2 linked regions of the Homo sapiens genome follow. The protein of the gene in region 1 interacts with the protein of each later gene in a pairwise test. Each region holds a gene or a part of one and is shown in the gene's direction. Other genes may lie near its edges. The genes, in order: SAMD4A and NUTM1.

Region 1 (3,913 bases):
AGTGTTTGGGCCTCTGTGAGCATCTGGCATAGAGAAAAATATCTATCAGAATCAACTTTTATTTCTTTTTTTAATAAGTAGTGCCCAGTATATCAAACTATATGTGCAGAATGATCCAATTTTATTATACAACACATAAAGACATATATATTATATTACAGTTCTATACATATTCCTCTCCAGAATGATCCTTGTAAAACTTGTCACTCCCTTGCTCAAAACCTTCCCTGGTTTCCCATCTTAGACTAGATTTCAGCATCCCTGCCCTGGCCCAAGGCCTCCAGGCTCAGGCCTAGGTGTCTGACGGGACACCATTGCCCACCTGCTCCATCGCAGGCCTCCTTGCTGTTCCTCAGACTCCCCCCTCAGAGCCTTTGCCCTTGCTGTGCCCTCCACCTGGAGCGTTTCTCCCCAGGATCCTCATGCCCACGCTCATTTGGGTCCCTGCCCCATGTCACCCTCTCCAGGAGCTTCCCCTCATAGCAGCCCCGACCCGTACCACAGCCCCTGGCATGATATAGTTATCTCATGGCTGGATGTCAACTCCTTGGGGAACCCTAAAGGCAATGAGGCAGCCACGATATGCTCATTTTGTACACAGAGAAACTGAGGCACAAATTGGTTAAGCCATTTGCCCAGGTTCACATGGGAGTGCAAGAATCCAAACCCCAGCCTCTGACCCAGAGTCTCTGCTCTTAATCGCTACCCTGTGCTGCGTGTGCCATGGACTGAGTGATGGTGTGAACAAGCTATTTCATCCAGAACATACACAGGACACAAAGCCATCATGTCACCCAACTTTGTTGTACAGCTCCTAAAGCATGTGACTGTAATATGTATAACTGCATTTTACAGAAATGCACAGAGGAAGGCAGAAAAGGAAATATACCAAATTGTTTTCGTGGTCATCTCTAGATAGTGGGATTTTCCGGTGGTGTGTATTTTCCTCGCTATACCTGTCTGTATTTTCCAAGTGTTCTTCCTGGGCCAATATTAGAATGATGAAACGAAAGTGGTCCCTTTTCCCAAAAACGTCCTGATGAGGGTACCAGCAGCCACGAATCCTGTAAGAGCTCAGGGCAGGGGAGGGCAGGTACGGGGGTGGATGACCCTTATTCCTGAGCCTAACAGAGGTCTTCCTGCTCTCACCGTCCAGGACATCATCGAGGGGGGCAGCCTGCGCATCCCGCTCCAGGAACTGCACCAGATGATCCTGACTCCGATCAAGGCCTACAGCTCCCCGAGCACCACCCCCGAGGCTCGCCGCCGGGAGCCCCAGGCCCCGCGTCAGCCCTCACTGATGGGCCCCGAGAGCCAGAGCCCCGACTGCAAAGATGGGGCCGCAGCCACTGGCGCCACGGCCACCCCCTCGGCCGGGGCCAGCGGGGGGCTCCAGCCGCACCAGCTGAGCAGCTGCGATGGGGAGCTGGCCGTCGCCCCCCTGCCAGAGGGGGACCTCCCCGGGCAGTTCACACGCGTCATGGGGAAAGGTAGAGCCTCATTCGCCCATTTCTTTTTTCTTCTGGATACCACTAACCAGAGCGACAGGCTCCTGGGGGCTTCCCCTGGGTGCTGGATAAATTCCCTGTCCAAGTAGACATCATTAGCTTCATCTTACAGATAGGGAAAGTGCAGTTCAGAGAGGTTAAGCCTTTTGGGTTTGAACTGCAATCACTGTGACCCCAGGAGACCTACTCCTTAATCCTGGCTCCTTTCTCTCCCAACTCCCTCAGACTAGGGGATGCCAGCCCTTTTATTACAGTGCTCATTGGGCCAGTGGACCCTTGCAGGAGGAAGGTGGGAAGGACTTCGAAAAAGATGATTTTGGGAACAAACCGTTCACTCAGCATCTCACCCTCTCTCCAAAGCAAAAGCGGCAGAAAATGAGTGACAAACTGAAGGGGCACAGACGCCTTTAGCCAGAGCCCAAAGATCTCCCTGTGCAGAAAAATGCCAGCCTTGGCAGTGGCCTCTCTCCTCACCACTGAAAGTGTTCTCAGATGTGGCCATGGTTTGGAGAATTCCCAGCATGGAACTGTTTTGTTCTCATTCTCCCGTGTCTGCGTTTATATTCTCTCTTCACGGCTGGCCTGCCATGTGAAATGCTCTAGTACGAATAGCTTGTGCTTATTTAGCTTTTCCTCTATAGCAGACACAGTTCTCCGTGCTTTACCTATAGAGCTTACTTAATTCCCAAGTTATCCCATTTTACAGAGGAGGAAACTGAGGCACACAGGCTAATTAGCCCACCTGAGCTTACACAGCTGATGGCAGGGCTGGAATTTGAACCCTGCAGTCTCTCCATCATGCACGTGGTTACCACTGTGCCTTCTTATCAGCTCAAGATAGAACAAGGTTAAGTTTCATGTGATGGTTCTCTCCGCTGTGAGGTGACAAAATCCAAACCTAAAGAGTCACGTGTCATCTGGCGCCTCCTTGTTACCTCTACAGCCCTTACCACCTCCATTCTACACTCCAGACTTTGTATCTTTGAGTTCTCAAAAGTTTGCATATTTTCCTGGCTTCTGAGCCTTTGTGCACACCTCCCCCTCTGCCTAGAACCTAGGCCCCTACTAGTTTATACAAAGCCTTCATGTGAATTACAAGATGGTGCCCTGTCTGGGTGGACACAGCACTGCTAGCACTCACCTTGGCATGCACTTGTGCAGTGCACAGCCTGCACATCCACATGGGACAGCCTTGCCTATAACACTCTTTTCCTCACCCCATTCCCTTCACCTGGGTCATGCCTCCTTCTCCAGGTCTTAGCCAAGTCCTCACATGCTCCAGGAAGCCTGCTGATCCACTGGGCTGGGTGAGGTACCCCCTTTCACCTGCCCCACGTCCCCCTTTACTTTCCTTGTCTTAGCCCAGTTCACACTAGATTGTGATTGCCTGTTTGCTTGACTGTATCTTCATTAGTCTGCAGCACAGACCACTTTTAATAGCTACTCAATACCCTGCTTTTGTAGCACAGTGCTTACAGTAGATGCCTCATAAGTAGGCGGTGCAAAAATTGAGGGATGACACCAGTATCTAAAGTTAGGCCTTCCCACAGACCATCCAAGCATACATGCTGGGTGCACGCCTGTCGGGGAGGGTAGACTCCACAGCGTGGTCCTTTGGGTAAGAGCGCCCCTTTCTACCTGGGCTACCCTCTGCCTTTTCTGGGGCAGACCCTTATTTCCATATCCTTGAAAATGTCCACCAGTAGAATAATTTATGCTTAATTGGGTGTCTTACAAGACATCTTGATTATTTTTTAACATGTGGCAATGCCAGCACTTTTCCTTTGGAAGGGGAAAACAATTTTTTCTCTGTTATTGTCCAATATTTCAGACCATTTTAAAAAACCAAGTTTGCAGTAAGAACAACCCCCACCCTTCCACCACCCACCTTAAGGCATGTCCTAAAAAAAGACTTAAATTCATAGTAATCTGGTGGAGGAGATGACTCACAGCTTCCCTTGGAGCTTGATGGCCAGGGTGGGCCCTCGCTCTCCCCCACCCACCCCTTAGCTGTGTTGGATTAGAACAGATTTCCCCATGGGTGAAGACACAGCTCTGCCAAGCCCAAGTGGAGCAGCTACTGAACACGCGGCACATCGCCCTACTTCCTGAGAGACCCACAGTGCTATGGCCCTGCTTCTTTACATTTTACCTACGTTAAAGGAAGCTGTAACCCCAGTTAACACTCAGCATACACAATTCAAATTAACAACATGGTGGAAAGTGGAAAACCACCCTCCCCCAACCCCAAACCCTGCCATCCTCATTCCCAGGGATAGTCACTATTAAGTTTTGGGATATCCTTTCAGAAACTTCATCATCATACATAAGCACATGAATATTCACTTTTTTTTTTTTTTGAGATGGAGTCTCGCTCTGTCACGCAGGCTGGAGTGCAGTGGCGC
Region 2 (3,913 bases), on another chromosome or scaffold:
CGTGAGCCACTGCGCCTGGCCTCATTCTTTACTTTTTAAAAATTTTCTTGAGGCAGGATCTCACTCTGTTGCCCAGGCTGGAGTGCAGTGGCACTGTCATGGCTCACTGCAGCCTTCACCTCTTGAGCTCAAGCGATCCTCCCACCTCAGCCCCACAATAGCTGTGACTAGACGCGCGTCATCACTCTTGGCTAATTTTTTTGGTATCTTTTGTAGAGATGGGTTTTTGCCGTGTTACCCAGGTTGGTCTCAAACTCTTGGGCTCAAGCAATCTGCCCACCTCAGCCTCCCAAAGTGTTGGGTTTATAGGCATGAGCCACCCCACCTGGCCATTCATTTTCTTAAGCTTCCTAAGTTATGACTATAGGGGAAGGAACTATGTGCTGAGCTCCTGAAGTTTCCCTGGAAATACGATTAAGCCACCTGTGACCACCCTCCTGGGTGACATGACTTAGGCAGACTTTGCCCACCTGAGAGCACTTCCTTTCTTGGCCATGCTTGGCTGTCGTCTGGATTTCTGATGGGTCTGGTCTCCTTCTCAGCATTGCCTATGCCTTTCTCACCCTCTGCAGGTTCATGGAGTTTGAGGCTGAGGAGATGCAGATTCAGAACACACAGCTGATGAATGGGTCTCAGGGCCTGTCTCCTGCAACCCCTTTGAAACTTGATCCTCTAGGGCCCCTGGCCTCTGAGGTTTGCCAGCAGCCAGGTGAGGCTACCCAATTTTGACAGGAGCCGTGGGCCAAAGGCTCAAAGGGATGCATACAGAAGCCAGTCACAGATTAGAGAAGGCATAGCCCAGGCTCTGCCACTTTCCCTCTGGAGAGTGGCATTTGATATTCCAAACAGACCACCCCATAGGAGGCTGGGTTCTCAGGTTCCTTTTGCCCTGAACTAGGTATTGATCTTGGTGAAGTAAACTGACTACTCTCACCGAGACTCTAAATTCAGCACATAATACCTCATCTGCCTAAGAAATGGGGACTGGATTAGGGGGTTTCTTGGAATCTCAGGGATTCCAAAATTCCTCATACAGTGATTCTTAGACCCTCTAGGTCCTAAATCTCCCATGGCTGGCGCTTTTTCAGGTTGGCCCAATCCAGCCTGGAACCATTTCAATGTACCCAGATTGCTGAGCTTACAGAGCTGGGAGGCAGAAGCTGTGGTTTCTGTGCTACTTCCCATTCTCCTGTCCATCTCTTACCTTAGTGTACATTCCGAAGGAGGCAGAATCTGTGGTTTCTGTGCTACTTCCCATTCTCCTGTCCATCTCTTCCCTTAGTGTACATTCCGAAGAAGGCAGCCTCCAAGACACGGGCCCCCCGCCGGCGTCAGCGTAAAGCCCAGAGACCTCCTGCTCCTGAGGCACCCAAGGAGATCCCACCAGAAGCTGTGAAGGAGTATGTTGACATCATGGAATGGCTGGTGGGGACTCACTTGGCCACTGGGGAGTCAGATGGAAAACAAGAGGAAGAAGGGCAGCAGCAGGAGGAGGAAGGGATGTATCCAGATCCAGGTCTCCTGAGCTACATCAATGAGCTGTGTTCTCAGAAGGTCTTTGTCTCCAAGGTGAGCTGGGCCTGCACATCTTGTTTCTAGCAGATCCTTGGGGTGGGTACTCCCGGGAACTAATGATCTGGGGTTTGTCCAATGCAGTAGGACTTAGGTTTTATTCTATAACTGAGTAATGTGTGTGCATGCATCATCATGAGAATGTGTGTAGCCGGTGGTGGTCAGTTTACAATACCGGAGGGGTAAGAGGGGAGAGTTGGGGAGCTCTTAGTTTCTTCTGTAAAGCCCCTTGTTTCACAGGTTACCTGCTTACAGACTTACATCGCTTTTCCTTCTGTTATCCAGGTGGAGGCTGTCATTCACCCTCAATTTCTGGCAGATCTGCTGTCCCCAGAAAAACAGAGAGATCCCTTGGCCTTAATTGAGGAGCTAGAGCAAGAAGAAGGACTCACTCTTGCCCAGGTAAAACTGGGGTATAGGAAATATGAGAACGAGAAGCTTGCAAGATTTTATCTAACCCTACACTGTCGTGGGTGATATGGCTCTAGAGATGAACAGCTTCAGGATTGGGCTTCAGGTGCAGAACGAGTAGGTAGAGGGCTATGGAAACACAGGAAATGAGAATGTAAGGGCTCAAAGCATGGGAATAAGGCACAAGAAGGTGGGAAAGAGCTGCAGTATCTGTCTTTGCTACCATCGCTTAAACTACTTGCTTGCCTTCCTTGCCCTGCCCAAATACCGTCTTGTGCCACCCACTCAGCCACCTCTTTCACAACCACGTATAGAACTGACTATTTGTTCATTTCTTTCAGCTGGTCCAGAAGCGACTCATGGCCTTGGAAGAGGAGGAAGATGCAGAGGCGCCTCCAAGTTTCAGTGGCGCTCAGTTGGACTCAAGTCCTTCTGGTTCTGTTGAGGATGAAGATGGGGATGGGCGGCTTCGGCCCTCACCTGGGCTTCAGGGGGCTGGGGGCGCCGCTTGCCTTGGAAAGGTTTCTTCTTCAGGAAAACGGGCAAGAGAAGTGCATGGTGGGCAGGAGCAAGCCCTAGATAGCCCCAGAGGGATGCACAGGGATGGGAACACTCTGCCATCCCCCAGCAGCTGGGACCTGCAGCCAGAACTTGCAGCTCCACAGGGAACTCCGGGACCCTTGGGTGTGGAGAGGAGAGGGTCTGGGAAGGTTATAAACCAGGTATCTCTACATCAGGATGGCCATCTAGGAGGCGCTGGGCCTCCTGGGCACTGCCTGGTGGCTGATAGGACTTCAGAGGCTCTGCCCCTTTGTTGGCAGGGAGGCTTCCAGCCTGAGAGCACTCCCAGTTTGGATGCTGGACTTGCAGAGCTGGCTCCTCTGCAAGGACAAGGGTTAGAAAAGCAAGTCCTGGGATTGCAGAAAGGACAACAAACAGGGGGTCGTGGAGTGCTTCCTCAAGGGAAGGAGCCTTTAGCAGTGCCCTGGGAAGGCTCTTCAGGAGCCATGTGGGGAGATGACAGAGGTACCCCCATGGCTCAGAGTTATGATCAGAATCCTTCCCCTAGAGCAGCTGGGGAGAGGGACGATGTCTGTCTCAGCCCAGGAGTTTGGCTGAGCAGTGAGATGGATGCTGTAGGCTTGGAGCTGCCTGTACAAATAGAGGAGGTCATAGAGAGCTTCCAAGTTGAGAAGTGTGTAACTGAGTATCAGGAAGGCTGCCAGGGACTGGGCTCCAGGGGCAACATTTCCCTGGGTCCTGGAGAAACCCTAGTACCTGGGGATACGGAGAGCAGTGTGATTCCCTGTGGAGGCACAGTTGCGGCAGCTGCCCTAGAAAAGAGAAACTATTGCAGCTTGCCAGGACCTTTGAGGGCCAACAGCCCACCCTTGAGGTCCAAAGAAAATCAAGAACAGAGCTGTGAAACCGTAGGGCATCCCAGTGATCTGTGGGCAGAAGGTTGCTTCCCATTGCTAGAAAGTGGTGATTCCACACTGGGGTCTTCCAAAGAAACCCTTCCACCCACATGCCAAGGCAATCTCCTTATCATGGGGACTGAGGATGCCTCCTCCTTGCCTGAAGCCAGTCAAGAGGCAGGGAGCAGAGGCAATTCCTTTTCTCCTCTGTTGGAAACCATAGAACCTGTCAACATACTAGATGTTAAAGATGACTGTGGCCTCCAACTAAGGGTCAGCGAGGACACCTGCCCACTGAATGTTCATTCTTATGACCCCCAAGGAGAAGGCAGGGTGGATCCTGATCTGTCCAAGCCTAAAAACCTTGCTCCTTTACAAGAGAGTCAGGAGTCTTACACAACTGGGACTCCCAAAGCAACATCTTCTCACCAGGGCCTTGGAAGCACTTTGCCTAGAAGGGGAACCAGGAATGCCATAGTTCCGAGAGAAACTTCTGTTAGTAAAACACACAG

Evidence for each region.
Region 2: the proteins of SAMD4A (region 1) and NUTM1 interact in binary tests that used the Homo sapiens proteins (3 or more experiments, as listed by UniProt).

Annotation. Positions count from the first base shown.
Region 1 is NC_000014.9:54,759,005-54,762,917, forward strand, and holds part of SAMD4A (protein Smaug homolog 1), read left to right. Parts: intron 1-1,156; coding exon 1,157-1,490; intron 1,491-3,913. UniProt on the Homo sapiens protein: Acts as a translational repressor of SRE-containing messengers.
Region 2 is NC_000015.10:34,353,164-34,357,076, forward strand, and holds part of NUTM1 (NUT family member 1), read left to right. Parts: intron 1-572; coding exon 573-709; intron 710-1,282; coding exon 1,283-1,569; intron 1,570-1,857; coding exon 1,858-1,974; intron 1,975-2,324; coding exon 2,325-3,913. UniProt on the Homo sapiens protein: Plays a role in the regulation of proliferation. Regulates TERT expression by modulating SP1 binding to TERT promoter binding sites.